Linked DNA regions of Homo sapiens: region 2 is linked to region 1. A link means that fine-mapping ties the variant in region 1 to the expression of a gene that starts in the linked region. Tissue or cell type: visceral fat. Region 1 holds a variant in brackets; the other region holds the start of a gene. All regions are shown on one strand. Distances are between the middles of the regions.

What was found. PIP is the estimated chance that this variant, and not a neighbour inherited with it, causes the effect.
Region 2: LIPA starts here. The variant in region 1 is the best candidate, but not a certain one, in a credible set for the expression of LIPA in visceral fat (GTEx, PIP 0.55).

Annotation. Positions count from the first base shown.
Region 1 is chr10:89,219,310-89,230,649 of GRCh38, reverse strand. It overlaps LIPA (lipase A, lysosomal acid type), which reads left to right. Exons shown (of 10, transcript NM_000235.4): 4 at 2,252-2,450; 5 at 3,646-3,755; 6 at 5,422-5,558; 7 at 6,820-6,966; 8 at 8,068-8,139. Among named protein-coding and RNA genes, the nearest start is that of CH25H, 18 kb to the right of the region's middle. The variant C/T (reference allele first, on the strand shown) is at 6,375.
Region 2 is chr10:89,246,533-89,257,872 of GRCh38, reverse strand. LIPA (lipase A, lysosomal acid type) reads left to right here and starts at 6,098. Exons shown (of 10, transcript NM_000235.4): 1 at 6,098-6,136; 2 at 10,224-10,335. The coding sequence starts at 10,225. RefSeq lists enhancers at 6,012-6,071, 8,740-8,829.

The sequences.
Region 1 (11,340 bases):
GAGTTGAGCCTAGGTTTGTTTGAGCTGTCTAAAACTCATGATCGGGCTGGGCGTGGTGGCTCACACCTGTAAACCCCGCACTTTGGGAAGCCGAGGTGGGTGGATCGCTTGAGTCCAGGAGTTTGAGACCAGCCTGGGAACATGGTGAAACACTGTCTCTACAAAAAACACAAAAATTAGCTGGGTGTGTTGGTGCACGCCTGAAATCCCAACTACTCAGGAGGTTGAGATGGAAGGATCACTTGAGCCCAGAAGGTGGAGGTTGCTGTGAGCAGAGATCACGCCACTGCACTCCATCCTGGGTCACAGAGCAACATCCTATCTCAATCAATCAATCAATCAAATAAGTGGATAAAACTCATGGTCAGTATAATGTCAGCTCCATGGAGGTACTTTTTTTCCTCTTGTTTTTGTTCTCTGCTGTGTTCTCAGTGCTGAGAAGAAGGCCTGGCACATAGTTGGTACTCAATAAAGGCTTGTTTCATGAATAACTGAATGGTCTCAGCGTTAGGTAAGCAGCTTGAGGTCAGGTTTCTTTGGCTCCCACATCTTTGTTTTTTCTGCTATATCACTGTCTCGGGTACAGGTGAGTAGAAAATAAATTCTCACAGGCAGACACAGACACATATATTTATGAATTTGTGTGTGTGAGCCTTTTTATCTATTTAACTTTTATTCAGCTTTAAAAATTTTTATTAAATTTTATTTTTTAAAGCAGTTTTAAGTTCATAGCAAAATTGAGTGGAAGGTACAGAGATTTCCCATACACCCTCTGCCCCCACACTCCCCTGTTATGAACATCCCTCACAGAGTGGAATTGTAATTGTTACAGCTGATGAACCTACATTCACACAAAGTCCGTAGTTTACATTAGGGTTCCCTTTTTTTTTTTTTTTTGAGACTGAGTCTCCCTCTGTCCCCTAGGCTGGAGTGCAGCAGTGCAATCTTGGCTCACTGCAACCTCTGCCTCCCGGGTTCAAGCAATTCTCCTGCCTCAGCTTCCTGAATAGCTGGGATTACAGGTGTGGGGCACCACACCCAGCTACCTTTTTTGTATTTTTAGTAGAGACAGGGTTTCGCCATGTTGGCCAGGCTAGTCTCGAACTACTGACCTCAAGTGATCCACTCGCCTCAGCCTCCCAAAGTGCTGGGATTGCAGGCATGAACCACCACACCCGGCCACTACAGTTCACTCTTGATGTTGTATATTCTATAGTTTTGGACAAATGTATGATGGCATGTGTCTACCTCTATAGTATCATGCAGAGTAGTCTTACTGCCCTGAAAAATCCTCTTTACTCTGTCTATGAATTCCTTCCTCCCTCCTAACCCCTGGCAACCAGGATCTTTTTTACTCTCTCTATAGTTTTGTCTTTTCCAGCATGTCATATAGAATGCAGCCTTTACAGATCTTGGTAATATGTATTTAAGGTTCCTCTACATCTTTTTGTGGCTTGATAGCTCATTTCCTTTTAGGGCTGAGTAATACTCCATTGTCTGGATGTAGCACAGTTTAGTTATGCATTCATTTACTGGAGCACATCTTGGTTGCTTCTAAATTTTGGCAATTATGAGTAAAACTACTATAGACATCTGTATGCAGGTTTTTGTGTAGATGTAAGTTTTCAACTCCTTTGGGTAAAATACCAAGGAATGTGATTGCTGGATTATATGGTAAGAGTATGTTTAGTTTTGTAAGAAACTGCCAAACTTTTCCAGTGTGGTGCTACCAGTTTGCATTTCCACCAGCAATGAATGAGAGTTCCTGTTCCTCCACATCCTCTTCAGCAGTTGGTGTTTTCAGCGTTTTTGGATGTTGCTCATTCTGATACGTGTATAGTGATGTCTCATTATGTGTGATCTTTTTCTTTCCTTTTGTTTATTTTGTTAGGAATTATTGTGAGAAATGCAATTACGAAAGCAAATTGTAAAAACATTTTATAAGAAAAAAATTGTAAAAACATTTTATAATTTCTTAAAAATATATTGATTTTTGTTTTTGCTGCTTACATAAGTGTGTCTTGTTAGTGGACATGCAAAAAATGGTCCAGTTTCACTGCTACCTTGCCAGTGCTGTTTTAAAAAAATTCTTTACTAACATTATATGTGAGTACATCACTATGTCAATCTTTCAATTTATTTCTAGTTCATTATTTGCTTATGGATCTTTTACGAATGTTCTATTTAGCAAGATATCATATTTGTTTTGAAGCTTGGTGCTACTGCCTCCTAAACAATGAATGTTTTTCAGGTCCCAAACCAGTTGTCTTCCTGCAACATGGCTTGCTGGCAGATTCTAGTAACTGGGTCACAAACCTTGCCAACAGCAGCCTGGGCTTCATTCTTGCTGATGCTGGTTTTGACGTGTGGATGGGCAACAGCAGAGGAAATACCTGGTCTCGGAAACATAAGACACTCTCAGTTTCTCAGGATGAATTCTGGGCTTTCAGGTATATATGAATTGATAATGGCATGGATGTATTTCCTTAGTACTCTTAAAGCAGACAACAGGCTTCCAGCAGAAGAGGTAGATAGGTGGTAACTCTGAAGTTGTATGAGAGGGGAAGTTAGTGTCTTTTGAAAGGTTTTAAATGTTGCTAGGAATTTAATGACTAGCAGTAAGGTAAATTATAAGTAAATGATTACATTAAGATTTACATTTAGTTAGGAATTCTTAAGTTACTTCGGCATTTCTGGTGGTGTGGGTGCTGCTGGGTAAACGTTATTCCATAACTTTCCTCCTTTCTCCATAAATATGTAATCCAGATGTTCACTTTTCTTCTTTCCAGAAATTATCCTTTCCTCCCTCTTCCTTCTGGCTCCACCAGTTAATTGCTGTATGACATTGGACATCTTACATAAGCCTCCTGTGTCTCGGTTTCCTTATTTGTAAAATGGAGCGTAATAAACACCTACCTCATAAGGTCACTGGGGGCTTAAAGGAGAGGGTGCAGAGAAGGAACCTCCACAGAACCTGGCACCTTGTATGAACTGGCTAGGGGTTGGCTCTTCTCCTGCCAGTGGCAACATGCGCATGCATATACCCATACGCACACTTGGGTTTTGGTCTATGTTTTGGTACCAGGTATTAGAGAAAGTCAGCAGCACTATAGCAGCCTCCGGGCTTGCTTCCCATTTTTAAAACCAGAGGCACCTCTAAGGACATGAAACACAAGAATGAGAGCTTTTAACAAAAGGCATATACAAGAATTGGTTTATTGTCACGCTATTTGTAACAACGGAAAACAGGAAACTACCCAAATGCATGTCAGCAGTGAATGGATAAAGTGTTGTATATTTATATAGTAGAATAAGAATGAACAACTTACAATTATATGCAGCAAAAAATGGATTAAGCCAGATACAGGAGAATACACATTGTATAATTCTACTTACAGAAATATTTAAAAACAGGCGAAACTAATTTCTGGTGTGAAAAATGAGGACAATAGTTACTTTTGGGAGACACAACTGGAAGAGAGCCCAAGGGGGCTTCTGCAGTCCTGCTGGTGTTGTTTCCTGGACTCACTGCTGGTTTTCCCAGCTGTGTTTAGTTTGTGATAACTCATCAAACTGCATACTCAGTATGTGTGTGCTCTATTTTATGTACTATTTCAATGAAAGAGTTCCTTTCTTGGATTACAGTTATGATGAGATGGCAAAATATGACCTACCAGCTTCCATTAACTTCATTCTGAATAAAACTGGCCAAGAACAAGTGTATTATGTGGGTCATTCTCAAGGCACCACTATAGGTATGTATGTAAATAAGATCAGAAGTTGATATAAATTCTTCATTACAGAGTTTGTACTTTTCTTAAAAGTGAAATATAAAAAGATGTTAGTTCAAATTCCATTTATTTTTAAATGCCAAACAGAAATAATGAATAAGATAAGGAATGTTGGTAACATTTAGTCTTCTATGAAAATTCATGTATATGGTTGAAATTGAAGAAATTAATGTAAGCCACAATATATTACATGTTTTCCTAGATGAAGCAAGATAGGGATGTGAGAGAGTAGAAAACAAGTAGTTTCTAAGTTCAGAGACTTACATAAAGAAAACAAGAAAATATACTGCCTTCTGAAGTTAAGTGGAATATAACTAACTACAGGTACATTTGGTTTACAAAAAATTTTGAAAAGTTATATGCATTTTAATTTATGCTGATTATATAAGTAATGCATGTTCACTGTAGAAAAACAGAAGAACAGAAGATTTAGCAAAATTAAAGAAAATAAAAATTGCCCATAATTCTAGTCAGCAAGAGTTTTTGTAATTAGGGACTAGGAACCTGTCCTATAATTTATTTAATTCTCCCTTTTAATGTTTACTATGACTAACACCTTAGTGTTCCCATCACATGCTTTCCTTACAATATATTCCTAGAAGGAGCCTTACTATATGAAAGGTATGAATGTTTTGAAGGGTCTCAAAACATGTGGTTATATTGCCAGGAAAAAAATGGAGTTAGGCATTTTTCTTTATTTATATTTCTTCTTTCATGACTTGCCTGCTTGGGACCTTTGCCCCACTGCTTCCTAAAGTGACATTCTGGGGCCAGGTGGCAAGACGTCAGAGAGGGTTGTATTAATTCGTTTTCATGCCACTACTAAAGACATACCCGAGACTGGGCAATTTATAAAGAAAAAGAGGTTTAATGGACTCACAGTTTAATGGATTGTGAGCTAGGGAGGCCTTACAATAATGACGGAAGAGCAAGGAACATCTTACATGGTGGCAGACAAGAGAGAGTGAGAGCCAAGTGAGGGAGTTTCCCCTTATAAAACCATCAAATCTCAAGAGACTTACTCACTACCACAAGAACAGTATGGGGGGAACCGCCTCCGTGATTCAATTATCTCCCACCAGGTCCCTCCCACAACACATGGGAATTATGGGAACTACAATTAAAGATGAGATTTGGGTGGGAACACACCCAAACCATATCAAGGGTTAAAATATATTTTAAAGCTAGGGGATTCTAAATGTGTGAGTTCCTTTGAAATCATTGGTGGTTTATTTCAACGTGGTGTCTGTAAATTGTTCTTTGGGGGAGGGGCATGGGGGAGATAAAGGTGATGGGGTGAGGCTCTTGGAAATAGTCTGTTATTTACATTGTAAAAGGAACTGGGAAGATTTTCTGATTCTCCCAGACTGGATTTCTTCCAGTGCTTATCTAGGTTGAGATTTGGAGCAAGCATTAACAAATGCTTGATTTACTAGTTTAACCAAATTCAGTGTTAGGGCACACGGAAGTTCAGAGTGCCCCATGTCAAGTGTTTTGGCTCCTGCTGGTGGTATTGTTTGCGTGGGTCTCAGGCCTCCGCGAGAGGGCGTCGCGAGTGACGGCCTTTGTGTTTTCTGAGAAGGAAATCCCAGATGATGGAATTCCTGTTTTCTGTCCTTTGTTCTCACAGGTTTTATAGCATTTTCACAGATCCCTGAGCTGGCTAAAAGGATTAAAATGTTTTTTGCCCTGGGTCCTGTGGCTTCCGTCGCCTTCTGTACTAGCCCTATGGCCAAATTAGGACGATTACCAGATCATCTCATTAAGGTACTTGGACCCCTCCCATCCCTCTCCTCTCCCCGCAGATTTCCTCCTGAGATCTGAAGAAATGGCAAGGGGAGGGATAATCTGTGCCTTCCTCCCCTGCGTTTTGATATCAGTGGAGCAGTGGGCTTTTCTTTTTCCGTTTACCCCTCCTTCCAGACCCAGGGGTGGCCGGGGACGCCTGTCGTTTCCTGCACACTGGTGCCACGTGTACTCATGGTTAGCATGTGTCAGTACAGCTCTGCCCACCTCACAGGGAGAGCAAGGAGAGTCTGGGAGAAAATAATTTAAGCATTTGTGGAGTTGCCCTTTATCCCATGAGGTGAGCCTGTGCACAGAGGATGTAGGAGATGGGAGATAGGAAATGTTCCCAAAAGCCCATCCCTAGCTACACTGAGGGTGACCTAACAACGCTATCATTATTGTATTTTATAATATGGCTCCTAAACACAGCCAGTAGCTTCATCAGGGCTCTGCCCTAAAGCTGTGGCACCCGAACCTCTGTTCAGGGAGGAAATAGATTTCATGAAAAAGAGTTTTAAGCTAGGTAAGACCAGATGTTCTATTATGCATGCATTATATGTCTTTTATGAAATATATGTTCACACACACACATATGAAATCCTGTATAGAAATATATACATGAAATGAGGTATAACGTCTCTCATGGGCCATTTAGAAGACTTAAATAGGAAAGATGGAATCTCCTAGGCTTAGGCAGTCCTTCTGCCTTGGCCTCTCAAAGTGCTGGGATTACAGGCATGAGCTACCATGCCTGGCCAATAAAAAAAATTTTAAAAAACAAAATAAAAAAGCAAG[C/T]GATGGGCTGGATTTGGCCTGCTGGCCAGTAGCATTGAATTAGATGGGCACACCTCTGGCAGACATTACTGATCAATCACAGCCTTGACTGTTTCTTAGAAGTAACCACCGATCCATCAGAGTCAGATGAAAATTACTTGGGGATGGCCCTGGGAGGGGTGATCATTAAGGCCCTTTCCCACTGTAGAAGTCCGCTGAAAACTTATTTGATTTTCTGCCTCCTTCTCTTCATTTGGAGAATTTAAATACACCTCTGTAGTGTGTGATTTTTGCTTTGGTAAACTTGTGCAAAAGCATCCTGATTTGATGTCCACTGGTTGCCATTCTCTCCTGAGGCCATTCGTGGAGACATTGGGTACTTGTCTCTGCTTCTGAGGTGAGTCACGGAGACTTATGCACCAGAGTGAAATGCTGAGATGTTCTTGGGTTTCTTTTTATTTTGTAGGACTTATTTGGAGACAAAGAATTTCTTCCCCAGAGTGCGTTTTTGAAGTGGCTGGGTACCCACGTTTGCACTCATGTCATACTGAAGGAGCTCTGTGGAAATCTCTGTTTTCTTCTGTGTGGATTTAATGAGAGAAATTTAAATATGGTATGCATGTTTATAGTAAGATTTGATTTTTTTTTTTATCTGTGAATGTGCTTATTTGTGTTGAATGATATGGGAGAGGTGGGAATGACCTCATCAGAACTCTAAAGAGTCTTTCATTTGAGAGGCACAAGCATGAACTTTGGCCAATGCCTAGAATACGGTACCACCTGCTGCCATCCTCAGGCTGACTGTGGTCACCTTCTTATGTTGTACCTAGATGGAGATTATTGAATGAGGAGATCTGTCACAAATTAAGCTGTAATATTTATAATTACTCTAGTGATTTGTTTCTTTTAGAAATCATTATAAGTATAAACATAAAGATGGGAACAATAGACAGTGGGGACTCCAAAAGGAAGGAGGGAGAGGGACAAGGGCTGAAGCCTGTTGAGTACTATAGCCAATATTGAGTACTGTGGTTATGGGATCAATAGAAGCCCGCATCTCAGCATCATGCAATCCACCCTTGTAACAAACCTGCACATGGACCCCCCGAATCTAAAATACACAAATTTTCAAAAATTACTATAAGTATTTAAATTTGGAACGGCCATTTACATACACATAAGTGTATGCTTGCAGTGTGTGTGTATTTATAAAAGTACATTTTATAAAATGTAAACCCATTTTATTTTATAAAATATAAACCCTTGGCCAATACTATGCCCGTGTTTCTAAATATGTTTGTTAGTTTGTCATGTGGCATTTTGAAAAAAAGGGTTAAAATCCTGGAATAAAGGCCCTAAGGAATTTCAGTGCCATTTTTCTTTTGTCTGATAATTAAAGCAAGGTGTGATTGTTATATGAAATTTGGGAAATTCAGGAAAGCATGAAGAACAAAATGAAAATGCCCTGTAAACGAAACCCACACAGTCCCGTGCTTACCATGTTGTTGCACCTCCTTCATATGGACTTTGTATGTGGTTGTATGTATTTTTATAGGGCAGATTTTTAGTCAAATAATTTTTTTCTACCTCTCATCTCACATACTTGAGATTATGGCTCTAGTTTTTAGTGCTTTGAAGGGCAAAATACAATGTTTATTATCAATGCCACCTTAATGCTGTTTTCATTCTTCATTTCAATGTATTTATTTTGCAGTCTAGAGTGGATGTATATACAACACATTCTCCTGCTGGAACTTCTGTGCAAAACATGTTACACTGGAGCCAGGTAGGCATTCCAGGAGTGCATTTGGGGTTCATGTAAAATCAACATCAGAAAGGTCTGGGCATGCAAACCCTTTCCAAATAGAAAGACAACCTGCTTACAAATCTGATCTGGTTTTCTTCCCCAGAGTCCTGGGTTTTTGTCATCGTGCTTGTGTTGCTTTTGATACCTGTGGTGGGGCACACTGTGTTATACGTGGGTTCACAAACAGCTACTGGGGTTGACATTTTTCTTTTCCCTCCTCTCCCTTCCTCAAGTCTCAGGTTAATATATTCTCTCCCTTTCCTTCTCCCCCAGCTTTCTTTTCCTCCTCCTGTTTCCTCCCCTCCATCTGCTTCTCATTGAGTCCTAGATTTTTTTTATTTCTGTGTTGCTTCATAAAGAGTGATTTTAAGTCCGTTTTGGAGATAGAAACCGCTGTTTCAACACTAACCCCTGATCACAATATGCTTGGAATAGCAGTGAATAAACTGGAGCTAAACCAATGATAGATGTGAATGGGGGCCCCTGACTTTTGAAATACAGTTTTGATTATTTTATCATGTAAATAAGTCATGTTCATTCTAGAAAATTTAGAAACTACATCTAGAAAAAAATTATCTTAAAATGAAAATAAAATCATTCTATAACCCTAGACAGAGAGGAAATGCATATCCATAGATATTGAATGTCTCTGCATTCTATTCTATACCTCTTTTCAAAAAGATGCTGTTAAAGACATGGATAGAAATAGTAGATGTAGAAATAGATTGATTTTTCTCCTGCTTACTGTTTTACAGCTTGCTTTTCTTTTTTCACCTGACAATATGTCAGGGACTTCTTTCTACCTCAGGACATAATTTTGTGCCATTTATTTTTCAGCTAACTTCATTTTTAATATGAAACAACTCACCATTTAAGCCCTAAACCAAGACACTGTAGGTGTCTTGAATAGTAATTTCCAAACACCTGGCAGTCACTGCTTGCATCAGAATCACCAAATTGCTTTAAAAAGTACACTATTTAATAAATCATTGCATTAAAAAAGTAATGAGAGTTGGAATTATAGTGGAATTCTTGGATTGGCTACCATCCAGGCTTATAAAACAAATACTCCTGTGTCCCAATCATTTGGACTAGAGAATCTGTACTTTTATTTTTTCGTTTTATTTTATTTTTTTGAGATGGACTCTCACTCTGTTGCCAGGCTGGAGTGTAGTGGTGCGATCTTGGCTCACTGCAACCTCCGCCTCCCAGCTTCATGTGATTCTCCTGCCTCAGCCTCCCGAGTCGTTTTATTATTTTAAAAAAAAATTTTTTATTGAGGTATAAGTGACATAGAATATTTAAAGTATACAATTTGATATATTTCAGTGTTTGTATACACCTGTGAAACCATCACCATAATCGACACAGCAAATATATCATCATCCTAAAAGGTCCCTGCTGCCCCTTTGTGATACCTCCCCCCATCCCTCCCCTCAATCCCACTGATCTGCTTCCTGTCATTGTAGCTTAGTTTGCATTTTCTAGAGCTTGCATGAGAACAGTCATGCAGTTTATACTTGTTTTTGTCTGGCTTCTTCCACTCAGAATACTTGTTTTGAAATTTTCCTATGTTGTGTATGTCAGTAGTTCATTCCTTTTTATTTCTGAGGATCTGCATTTTTAAAAAATCTGCCTGGTAGATTCTTTTGCTCCACCAGGTTTGGGAGCAGACCTGTTCGGGACATCCTGATACTTTCATCTCCTTCTTCAGTTGCCCCAGGAACTCTAACAGTGCTATAGTTCTCCTTTCCCTGGGGCTCGTCTCTAAGGAACTAGGAAGAGCCTGGCCTGAGGCTCCTGGTCCTTTATAGTAACTAGAAGGCTGAGAGTTAAATGTCAGTTCCTCAGGGGCAGAGTTTGTTGTGGCCTAAAAGAGGGGCATCTGGAATGCAAATAGTTCATGACGTGCTGAACAGCACATGCTTACCACTTAAGGAATGCCCCCAAACCTTCAAAAATCCTCAAATTCACAAAGATTGAGGATTTTCGTTCTTGGTTCAGGTCTCTGCTTTTCTCCTTGGTCACATTTATGCTTATAGTCACTTGTTTTCTTCATATACCCTGTCACTAGAATTCCCCTACATTTTTGAGGATGCCTAGGACCTCTTACCTAATGGACATTTTCCTAAAAGGCCCAATGTCTGTCACCTCATCAGTTATTGCACCCCCAGAGATGATGGAGGGTGACTGAGCTGGCTGGAGGCAGATCCTGAGCTTTCCCACCAGCTTAGTGACTGCCAGCAGCCCACACACAGTACACGCCAGGCCTCAGCAAAGTACAAATGGCCACCAGACCTGGGATGTCAGAGGCCCTTGGGAATGTTGAAACCAAGGCTGTCCTAGGCCAACTCTATTTTATATTACAGACCTGTGTTGCTTCACCCTTCTGTGTCTTGGGCCTCCACTGGGCATGGGGTTTGCAGTAGAGACATTGGATCGGCTATCATCTAGGCTACTGGTCTTGTTCCAGCCCTCTTATCCAGCAGCTTGCCAGGGTCAAAGGCTGCAGGGTGAGGGCCAGAGCACTGCTCTGTGCCCCATTTGTGACCTGGTGACTTTAGATTCTAACTACCCTGGAATATACCTCCAGAATATTTGCAAAGCCCAGATTTGCTGTACAAGGCAGCCTGGGCCTTTGCTCTTCTACCCGCTGTACCATCTTTTGTCAGTAAAATGGTTGGTTGCTTTGTGCAGCCATTGTATCGGATCTTCCCTTTGGCTTTCCCTCCTCTGGGCTGTTGGCCAGGGGCTGCCACTGGTGCAGGCTGCAGGCTCCAAGAGGCAGTGCAGGAAAAGGCTTCTGTGGAAGCTGGGCAGGCCTGGATGCCGGGCAGGCTGGGGCTAGAATTCAGGTGTGGCATTAGAGGGCTCTTATGGTATGAGTTTGGGGTTGACCTTAAAGGCCATTTTGTTTACAGTCCATTCAGAAGTTTACTTTTTGTTTAAATAATTAGGATTAACTTGTTAATAAATTCCATACCTTGTTCTTTAGCGGGATTTTAAATATAGCATACTCATCTTTCCATTCTCCTTATAAACCTGATGAATTTCGGAGCTCCCCAGAGCCAAGACTTGATATTACTTCTCACTTTCTCACTGGCCCTGCCCAGAGCCCAGGTACTCTCACCTGTTTGAAGAAGGCCATCCCAGTGTAGTTTTCCAGTGTTGTTCTGACCT
Region 2 (11,340 bases), 27 kb before region 1:
TAGTTAAAGACTTGAAGGAACCCATCTGCAGCTCGCCACAGCCTCTCTCTCTCTTCAGCTCTCTCTGCTCCAGCATTCTGCCCTGCAACTCTGCTGCCTTAAGAGAATTCCTACTGCCAGATGAGAATGCTTTTTTAATTCTCATTTTTCTCCTCTATTTAGATAAACTGCTGGATTTTGCTTGGATTTGGCCTCCCTAAACTACAGCCTGGAAAATCTGTCCAGGCAATTATCTGAGGCATTGCAGGGATCATTTCATTTGTTTTTCTTTTCTCAAGGATTGCTCTTTCTTTTGCACTATTTGTTGTCCAATGTCTGAAATTATCGTTTCATACTTTTTCCAACTTAGCTGTTTAAAGTAGGAGAGTAAACCAGGTCATTGTTACTCTATCTTTGCTGGAAGCAGAACTGCTATTAGTATTGTTTCTGTCTTTATTTCACCAGTCTGGCTTATGATATAAAGTGACCATCCCAAACACACATGTTCATATATGCACACACACACACACACCACTACTACCTCCTGTTTTCTATAAAACTTTCTTTTTATAGTTGTGAAAGTTGTCAAAATCAAAATGAAGTCCTTTATATTAAAGTCCTGGCAAATGGACCCATGGAAGGCCATAAAGGGAGTATTCTCACACATATGCCTGAAATTCAGAACTATCACAAAAGACTGCCAAAAATGCAGTCTTGCACAGAAAATACTTCTGCAAGGATGTCTATTCAGCAACTGTCAGTCCTTGGACCAATGCCACCCTTGTTATTGATCCTCGTAGCCAAGGACAATTGATTCAAAACAACTTATTTATTCTTTCTCATTTTGCCTTTAAAAACTTCCCCTTGTCTTAACTTCTTTAAATATGCACATAGTATAATATGGCACACTTATTCACATTGCAAACCTGAATAAATATCATTTTCTTATGTAGAGTCTCCTTTTCTCTCTTTATTAAGTTTAACTTGGAAAAGGTATAGGTCATCCACCAGTCACTGTGGCTCACAATGGCCCAAAGCAGGAAGTAGGAGAAATCTTCCCCTACCTGAGTGAAGGAACCTCGTGGTTATATTTTCATTCATTCACTCACGGATGACAACCTGGATTTAGTTTGCCTGGGTTGCATTTTGGGCTACATCACTTTTTACTTTTGTGAAATTGTGCTAAGCCCTCTACATACAGTGTCTCACTTAATCCTCAAGACTACCTTCATACACCCATTTTACAAGTGAAGACGCTGAGGCTTAGAAAGGGTAACTATATTGCCCAATGTCTGACACACAGAAATGCTGCTCAATCTGTTGCTCGTTTCTCAGTACTCACTTCACTTAAGCTGTCATTGGCACTTGCCTGGGCTGATCATTTCCTCTTTCATGAAATTTCTTTCTTCAGTTCATGTCAAGTACAACACACTCATTTCTCCTCCAACCTCATTGTCTTCTCAGCTTTTATATCTTCTGAATCTCTACGTGTGTTCTTTGCTACTTATGCTTACTTTATAGGGGATCTCCTCCAGCCTCATGTCTTTAAATACTGTTTCTAATCTGATTAGTCACAAATCATATCTCTAGCCTGGAGCTTGAATACATCTATATATCCTAGTCCCTACTCAACATCTCCATGTGGATGTTTTTCCAATCTTCTCCTTTTTGTTCCAAATCCTTTCCCTGTCCTACCTCTGCTCTGCTCTGTCTTGTGGAGGGTGGAGTGGTCTGACCTCTGCAGGCTCTTGTGTCAGCCACCTTTAGCCTGCCTAGGATCCTCAGAAGGGACTTGTGGAAGACTGAAGGAAGAAGGAAGAAAGAAGGGGAGGTCCAGCTATTTCTAGCTCCTCTCTTTCTTGGCCATGAGTAGTGTCTCTGACAGAGACTGTTGCTCAACTTCTGGTCTATGGTATGACACTTCCTTCATCCAATAATGCCCCAGCTCTTTCCACTGTTGCTAATAATTTCTGTGGTGCCACCCAAACCCTGTTTGTCTTCTCAGCAATGTCATTACCTGTGTAACCATGTCCTCTGTTTGCAATGCCTAGAGTGGCTTCTATTTCCTGACATGGCCTGAGTTGACACAGGTCTCTAAAAGGCATCTCAAAACCAACACATCTAGAACAAACTCCTAATTTCCCTCTCAAGTTGTTCTTCCTGGTAGTTTGTCCATTCAAATTCATGGCAACTCCATTAGTGCCATCCTTGATGCTACTGTCCCTCTCATACCTGTATTCAATCCACCAGCAAGTCCTATTGGTTCAACTTTATAAACATACCTAGAGCTGCCTATTTTTCTCCACTTTCACTGCTATCACCATCCTGGTCCAAGTCATTATTAACTCTCACTTGGACTATTGTGGTAGCCTTCTGATATGGTTTGGCTGTGTCCCCACCCAAATCATTATCTTGAATTGTAGTTCCCATAATGCCCACATGTTGTGGGAGGGACCCAGTGGGAGATAATTAAATCATGGGGGGCAGTTTTCCCCATACCTTTCTTGTGGTAGTGACTAGGTCTCATGAGATCTGATGGGTTTATAAGGGGAAACCCCTTTCACTTGGTTCTCATATCCTCTCATGTCTGCTGCCATGTAAGACGTGCCTTTTGCCTTCTGCCATGATTGTGAGGCCTCCCTAGCCACGTGGAACTGTGAGTCAATTAAACCTCTTTCCTTTACAAATTACCTAGTTTTGGGTATGTCTTTATTAGCAGCATAAGAACTGACACAGTAAATTGGTACCAGTAGAATGGGGTGCTATTGTAAAGATACCCAAAAATGTGGAAGTGGCTTTGGAACTGGGTAACAGGCAGAGGTTGGAACAGTTTGGAGGGCTCAGAAGAAGTCAGGAAGACGTGGGAAAGTTTGGAACTTCTTAGAGAACTGTTGAATGGCTTTGACCAAAATGCTGATAATGATATGGACAATGAAATCCAGGCTGAGGTGGTCTCAGATGGAGATGAGAAACTTGTTGTGAACTGTAGTAAAGGTGACTCTTGCTATGTTTTAGCAAAGATACTGGGGGCATTTTGTCCCTGCCCTAGAGATTTGTGAAACTTTGAACTTGAGGGAGATGCTTTAGGGTATCTGGGGGAAGAAATTTCTAAGCAGTAAAACATTGAAATGGTGACTTGGGTGCTGTTAAAAGAATTCAGTTTTAAAAGGGAAACAAAACATAAAAGTTCAGAAAATTTGCAGTCTGACAATACGATAGAAAAGAAAAACCCATTTTCTGAGCAGAAATTCAAGCTGGCTGCAGAAATTTGCATAAGTAATGAGGAGCCAAATGTTAATTACCAAGACAATGGGGAAAATGTCTGACAGGGCATGTCAGAGACCTTTGAGGCAGCCCCTCCCATCACAGGCCCAGAGGCCTAGGAGGAAAAAATACTTTTGTGGGCTGGCTCAGGTCCTCCCTGCTGTGTGCAGCCTAGGGACTTGTGTCCCAGCCTGTGTCCCAGTCACTCTAGCCATGGCAAAAAGGGGTTAAAGTACAGCTCAGGCCATGGCTTCACAGGGTACAGTCCCTAAGCCTTGGCAGTTTCCATGTGGTGTTGAGCCTGTGGGTGCACAGAAGTCAAGAATTGAGGTTTGGGAACCTCCACCTGTATTTCAGAGGATGTGTGGAAAAGCCTGAATGTCCAGGCAGAAGTTTGCTGCAGGGGTGGGGCCCTCAAGGAGAGCCTGGGCTAGGTCAGTGCAGAAGGGAAATGTGGGATTGGAGGCCTCACACAGAGTCCCCAATGGGGCACTGCCTAGTGCAGCTGTGAGAAGAGAGCCACTGTCCTCCAGACCCCAGAATGGTAGATCCACCGATAGCTTGCACTGTGCACCTGGGAAAGCTACAGACACTCAACACCAGCCTGTGAAAGGAGCCAGGAGGAAGGGTCCCCCTGCAAAGCCACAGGGGCAGAGCTGCCCAAGACCATGGGAACCCACCTCCTGCATCAGTGTGACCTGGATGTGAGACATGGAGTCAAAGGAGATCATTTTGGAGCTTTAAGAAATGACTGCCTTGATGGATCTGGACTTGCATGCGGCTTTTAGCTCCTTCATTTTGGCCAGTTTCTCCCATTTGAAACAGGTGTATTTATCCAATGCCTGTACCCCCATTGTATCTAAGAAGCAACTAACTTGCTTTTGATTTTACCAGCTAATAGGTGGAAGGGACTTGCCTTGTCTCAGGTGAGACTTTGGACTATGGACTTTTGAGTTAATGCTGAAATGAGTTAAGACTTTGGGGGACTACTGGGAAGGCATGATTGGTTTTGAAATGTGAGGACATGAGATTTGGGAGTGGCCAAGGGCAGAATGATATGGTTTGGCTGTGTCCCCACCCAAATCTCATCTTGAATTATAGCTCCTGTAATTCCCACATGTTGTGGGAGGGACCCGGTGGGAGATAACTGAATCATGGGGGCAGTCTAGCCCATACTGTTCTTGTGGTGGTAAATAAGTCTCACAAGGTCTGATGGTTTTATAAGAGGAAAATCCTTTTACTTGGTTCTTTCTCTCACATGTGCCGCCATGTAAGACAAGCCTTTTGCCTTCTGCCATGATTGTGAGGCCTCCCCAGTCCTGTGAAACTGTGAGTCAGTTAAACCTTTTTCCTTCATAAATTACCCAGTCTTGGGTATGTCTTTATTAGCAGCATGAGAACAGACTAATACACCTTCTAATTAGTCTCCCTGCTTCTGTAGTTCAGAATGATCTTTCTAAACTAGATTATGCTGCCCTTCTATTGAAAATATTACACTGGCTTCTCATCTTACTCAGAAGACACGGTAAGATCTTGACAAGTGGCTCCCAAGGCACCAGACTTCTAGGACTTCATGTTCTATTACTTTCTACTATGTACATTCTGTTTTAGCCTCAAAGACCTCACCACTCTGGCTAGGACCCACCAGGAATATTCCTACCACAGGGCCTTTGTACCTGCTATTTTCACCCAGAATGTGCTTTCTCCAGTATCTAAGGCTGTTAACTACCTCCTTGCCTGTGCTCAGGTGTCACTTCATAAGAGTCCTTTCCTGATTACCATATACATATCATCCTCCTTATCCCTGTTTTTTTTTTTTTTTGGGGGATGGAGTCTCACTCTGTTGTCCATGCTGGAGTGCAGTGGCATGATCTCCGCTCACTGCAACCTCCACCTACCTGGTTCAAGCCATTTTCCTGCCTCAGCCTCCCAAGGAGCTGGGATTAGAGGCACACACCACCACACCCGCTAATTTTGTATTTTTAGTAGAGATGGGGTTTCACCAAGTTGGCCAGGCTGGTCCTGAACTCCTGTCCTCAGGTGATCCGCCCTCCTCAGCTTCCCAAACTGCTGGGATTACAGGCGTGAGCCACTGTGCCCAGCCCCTTGTTGTTTGTTGTTGTTGTTGTTTGTTTGTTTTTGTTGTTATTTATAGCACTTATCACCACCTCATGTATTATATAGTTATTCATGATGTGTCTCTTCCCATCAGAATATATACAAGAGAACAGGAACCTTGTTTGGTTGGTTTCTATACCTCCACTGTCTTACTAATGCCTGGCATTTAGTAGGTGCTCAATAAAATCTTTGTTTTAGAAAATGATTAATAAATAATATGTACATATTGAATATTGTTTCCTCTTTTAACAAATCTTTAATAATAATAAAAAATTTAAAGCAGCAAGATTGCTTTGCATCAGGCACAATGATAAGCGCTTTAAATGGAGCCCATGATTCACTTTCATTTATAGAGCCCACATGCTCTCTGTCAGGCGCAGAAGGTGCCAGCCCTGCAGGAGCTTCGGGGGCGGAGCAGAAGGCCGCCTAAAACAGCCTTTGCTAAGAGAGCATGCGTAGGCGACGCGCTGGTAGAGCTGTGGACCTGCCAGCCTGCGAGGCGGAGGACGGGCTCCATCTCTTAGAAACGCCTACGGCGCATGCTCTATGGGGTCAACTGGGGGGCTGGCAAGCGGCAGCGCTGGTCTGGGGCGGAGTCTCCGAGGCACTTCCCGGTGGCTGGCTGCTCTGATTGGCTGAACAAATAGTCCGAGGGTGGTGGGCATCCGCCCTCCCGACAAGGCAGACCAGGCCCCCTGCAGGTCCCCTATCCGCACCCCGGCCCCTGAGAGCTGGCACTGCGACTCGAGACAGCGGCCCGGCAGGACAGCTCCAGGTGAGAGTGCCGGCGCCGCGGCGCTGCCAGGTGCGGGTGCGGCGTGGAAGCTGGTGCCTTCAGCAAGGGGAGGGTCGCGCCCCGAGGCTCTGCCGGCCGGCAAGACCCTCTGCGTTTGGACCCAGCGAGTCTTGCCTGGGGTGCCTGCGGGTGCTTTTTCTGCGGGCGTTGGCTCAAGGCATCTGCCAATCAACCAGGGCAACTTCAGAGAGCAACTTCAGAGAGAAGCCCACTCTCTTCCCTGGGCGCTGTCCACTTTCCTGGACAGGCGCGGTCTCCGGTCAGTGAAGCTGCCCAGTGCTCCTGGACCGCGAGGACAGCAGGGATGTCTGATTCCTCTCTCTGCATCCTCGTGCTCTCCCCTTAGCTCCTCCAGGCATCCCATCCTACCTCTCTTGTTAGCCAACGGCGTGGTCGAAAGCAGACTTGGGCATCAATCCTGGTTAAAGTCCCAGCGATACTGCTTTTTAAACAGCTGACACTTTGCTTCCAGTACTTCAGCTGGGTGAACCTCAGATTCCTGAAAAATGGAATTAATGGTACTGCCATAGGGTCGGTGGAGGAGTAATTGACAGTAGATCAGAAGCGCTGCCTGCGGTGGCTGGCGCCTCGCAAGAGCTTAAATGGGAGTCGTAATAATTGTTGTTATTAGAAAGTTAAATAGCATGCTGCGTTGGGGCCTTTTCTTCTGCCACTGAACTGTTGGACTGCTCTTATCTTTTTTCAGAATCTGTACTATGCATCTAATATATACGTGGCACTTTGCTTGGTCCTGGGGGTACAAAGCTGAGTCAGATTGTTACAAAGTCTAAATAACTGAGATAAAGGTGTTAATACAGCCCAGAAAAGCACACTTAATTCAGCCTGGAAGGTTTTTTTTCCCCCCTCCTTCGAGATTTTCAGAGTATCTCCTTCTTAGTAAGAATTGCTTGGCTTAGTATGTTGAGAAAAACATACTAAGTATGTAGTGTTGTGTTGGAAGGAAAACTTAACTGGGTGAGATTTTCAGCTGAGTAGCTTTAGCTGTTACTCTCATGGACCTTCCTCTGGGCGGTTGATACAGGTTCTGTAGGAAAACCGCTGAATGAAAGCAGCTCCTGCAGATGCTATTCTGTTTTCAATTGTGGTAATTCCTTTAATTTTTTCCCTTTCAATTTACTCCTTATTCTCTAGTAATAATGGACTTTTGGGAGGTTGCATTTATGATAAAAAATAGCCTGGGGCTGTACAATCCTTCCTATCATGAAGAAGTACAAAGTTGTAAGTAGAAGCAGTGGCCTTGCTTTGCCAATGCACACTGAAGGGGATAACGTTTGCTCCTGTTCAGAGTTCACGGTCGGGCGCGGTGGCTCACGCCTGTAATCCTAGCACTTTTGGAGGCCGAGGCCGGCGGATCACGAGGTCAGGAGATCGAGACCATCCTGGCTAACACGGTGAAACCCTGTTTCTACTAAAAATACAAAAACAAAATTAGCCAGGCGTGGTGGTGGGCGCCTGTAGTCCCAGCTACTTGGGAGGCTGAGGCGGGAGAATGGCCTGAACCCAGGAGGTGGAGCTTGCAGTGAGCCAAGATCTCGCCACTGTACTCCAGCCTGGGGGACAGAGCAAGACTGTCTCAAAAAAAAAAAAGAAAGAAAAGAAAAGAAAAAGAAAAAGAAAAAAGAAAAAAGAAAAGAATTTCAGAGTTCACTACTTCTTGGAAAAAAATAATCCCAGGAGGAATTCCATCAACAGAAGGGAGTCAGTTCACTTTTGCAATCTCCTGAGAATCAATTTCTTAAGACTTGTGGAATATTCAGTTTAAACACAAAACTAAAAACAAACAGCTGTATTGGAGTATTATTGACATACAATAGCATGGCATATTTCAATTGTACAATTGTATAAGTTTTTGCATGTGTACACACCTGTGAAACCATCAGTACATTCAATATTATGAACCTGTACATCACCTCCAAAATATTATTTGTGCATACCCCTTTGTGATCCTTTCTTACTGCCCCTTCTCTCCAGGAAACCACTGATCTGCTTTCTGTGAATATAGATTAGACTGCATTTTGTGGAGTTTTATATGAATGGGATCAGACAGTACTTTTTTTTTTCCTTATTTTGATCTGGCTTCTTTTGGCATAATTATTTTGAGATTAATCTATATTTTTTTGTGTTCCTTCCCTTTTATAGCTGAGTAGTAGGTATATACCATAATTTATCCAATCATCCATTTAAAGCATTTGGGTTTTTCCAGTTTTTGTCTATTACACCCAAAGCTGTTATAAACATTTATGTACAAGTCTTTGTATGGGCATACATGCCTGCATCTTTTTAAGTGATTCTATTTATTTTTTAAAAATGTAGAAGTTCTGGGATCTAGTCCTAGGTTTTTCTCTGACCACTTGCGTGATCTTAGGAGAGGCATTTAACTTTGCCTTCAGCATCCTCAAGGTCTTTGCTGTGATTTTGAGTCATCACTGCCAGAAACCAAGATGGTCTTTGTTGATTTGATGGTTAGAGAATTTCAGAAGGAGAGAGACGGGTCAAATTTTTCCTTTCTGTTTCTTTTGAAAGCTCTATTTTCTTTCATTTCACTTTTTTCCCATGAATGACAAATTTAAATGCTGACGTATAATTTGGGGCAAGAACAGAAGTGGTTAGATAAGTAGGAGGAAGAGCTAATAGTGGTTAGATAAGTAGGAGGAAGAGCTAATAGTGGCTGAACTTAAACATGTCTAAATCATAGGTGGAAGGCAAGAGGTGGGAAATAAGCAAGCTCAGAAATTTTGTGTCTCTTTCTTTTTCTCAAACTATCCTCTTCTAAGTCTTGCCTTTTGTTATTTCTCCATGACCAATTTGTTTTTAACTTTGGGGTTAGGAGGTGAATGGGTATGCTGGACTCCAAAGGTCATATATCAACTGGAGGTGGTGGGTGGGAGGTTTCTTAGTTAAAAGTAATTCCTTTGGGCCGGGCGCGGTGGCTCACGCCTGTCATCCCAGCACTTTGGGAGGCCGAGGCGTGATCACGAGGTTAGGAGATCGAGACCATCCTGGCTAACACAGTGAAACCCCGTCTCTACTAAAAAAAAAAAAATACAAAAAAATTTGCCGGGCGTGGTGGCGGGCGCCTGTAGTCCCAGCTACCTGGGAGTCTGAGGCAGGAGAATGGCCTGAACCTGGGAGGCGGAGCTTGCAGTGAGCCAAGATTGCGCCACTGCACTCCAGCCTGGGCGACAGAGCGAGACTCAGCCTCAAAATAAATAAATAAATAAATAAATAAATAAATAAATAAATAAATAAATATAAAATAATAATAATAATAATTCCTTTGGGAGGCGGAGGCGGGCAGGTCACGAAGTCATCTGAGACCAGCCTTGCCAATATAGTGAAACCCTGTCTCTACTAAAAATACAAAAATTAGCCGGGCATGGTGGCCTGCACCTGTAGTCCCAGCTACTCTGGAGGCTGAGGCAGGAGAACCGCTTGAACCTGGGAGGCGGAGGTTGTGGTGAGCCGAGATTGTGCCACTGCACTCCAGCCTGGGCAACAGAGCGAGACTCCGAAAAAAAAAAAAAATTCCTGGGCAGGCGCGGTGGCTCACGCCTGTAATCCCAGCACTTTGAGAGGCCGAGGTGGGCGAATCACGAAGCCAGGAGTTCGAGACCAGCCTAGCCAATATGGTGAAAGCCCATCGCTACAAAAATACAAAAATTAGCCAGGCGTGGTGGTGCGTGCCTGTTGTCCCAGCTACTTGGGAGGCTGAGGCAGAAGAATTGCTTGAACCAGGAGGCAGAGGTTGCAGTGAGCTGAGATTGCACCACTGCACTCCAGCCTGGGTGACAGAGCAAGACTCCATCTCAACATAAATAAATAAATAAATAAATAAATAAATAAATAAAATAAAAATAAATAAATAAAATTTAAAAATTCCTTATTCTCCTTTCAGATATGGCTGGAGTCATTTGTTTCATATTTTCCTTTCACCTTTTACTTGCCCTAAATCTGGTTCAGAACTTTTTGTGGGAGCATTAAGTTACCAGAATATTTTTGTGTAGTAAAATTCAAGCAAATAATAATAGACTGTTTTATTATACAGAATGAAAATGCGGTTCTTGGGGTTGGTGGTCTGTTTGGTTCTCTGGACCCTGCATTCTGAGGGGTCTGGAGGGAAACTGACAGCTGTGGATCCTGAAACAAACATGAATGTGGTAAGTTTCTCAAAGTTATGTACTTTTAAAATGCATCTATTTCCCCGATCCAGTTATGTGAGCTACATGAAGCCATACCCATACATTCATCTCTTTATAACTCCTTTGCTTTTCAATTTCTCTGAATTTTTTTTTTTTTTTTTTTTTTTTTTTTTTTTGAGGCAGAGTCTTACTCTGTCACCTGCCCGCCCAGGCTGGAGTGCAGTGGTGTGATCTCGGCTCATTGCGACCTCCGCCTCAGGGGCTCAAGTGATTCTCGAGCCTCAGCCTCCCAAGTAGCTGGGACTACAGGCATGCACCACCATGCCTGGCTAATTTTTTTTGTATTTAGTAGATACAGGGTTTCACCATGTTGCCCAGGGTGGTCTTGAACTCCTGAGCTCAGGTGATCTGTCCACCTCAGCCTCCCAAAGTCCTGGGATTACAGGCGTGAGCCACCGTGCCCAGCCCAATTTCTCTGAATCTTAGATTCAATTTGCTAGGCTTTTCTCACCAGGTAATATGTAGCCAACAAACCTCAGTTTAATGTTATATATACTTCTTAATAAGATAAATTATGATTTTTTATTAATTCATTTCATTTTTAAGTCTCACTAAGTTTGTTTAAACTATAAAAAAGTATTTAAACTTTGCAAGAACATTACCGCTATTGAGAGCTGGTTTTAGAATACATTGAACAAAGGTTGTGATTAAGAATGTCCAGGGAACATATTTCTATACAGAAGTCAAAGTATCTGAGCTAAATTTTGTTAGAAAAAATATGCAAAAATAACCACTCGACTAATTAAAACATCTGAAAGTTATTAATCGTAAGTAAACAATAAAATCTGGAAATACCTCATTTAGGCACAAAATATCAGTAAAGTACAAATTATTAAAGAAAACAGCAACTTTAAAATAGATGTTGCAGTGACCCAGCTGAAGAATCAGGCAAGCTTAGGGACTCGCAGAGAAATTCACAGTGAGCCAGGAGAGTATGACCTGATAACAGGGTCTTAAAGTTAA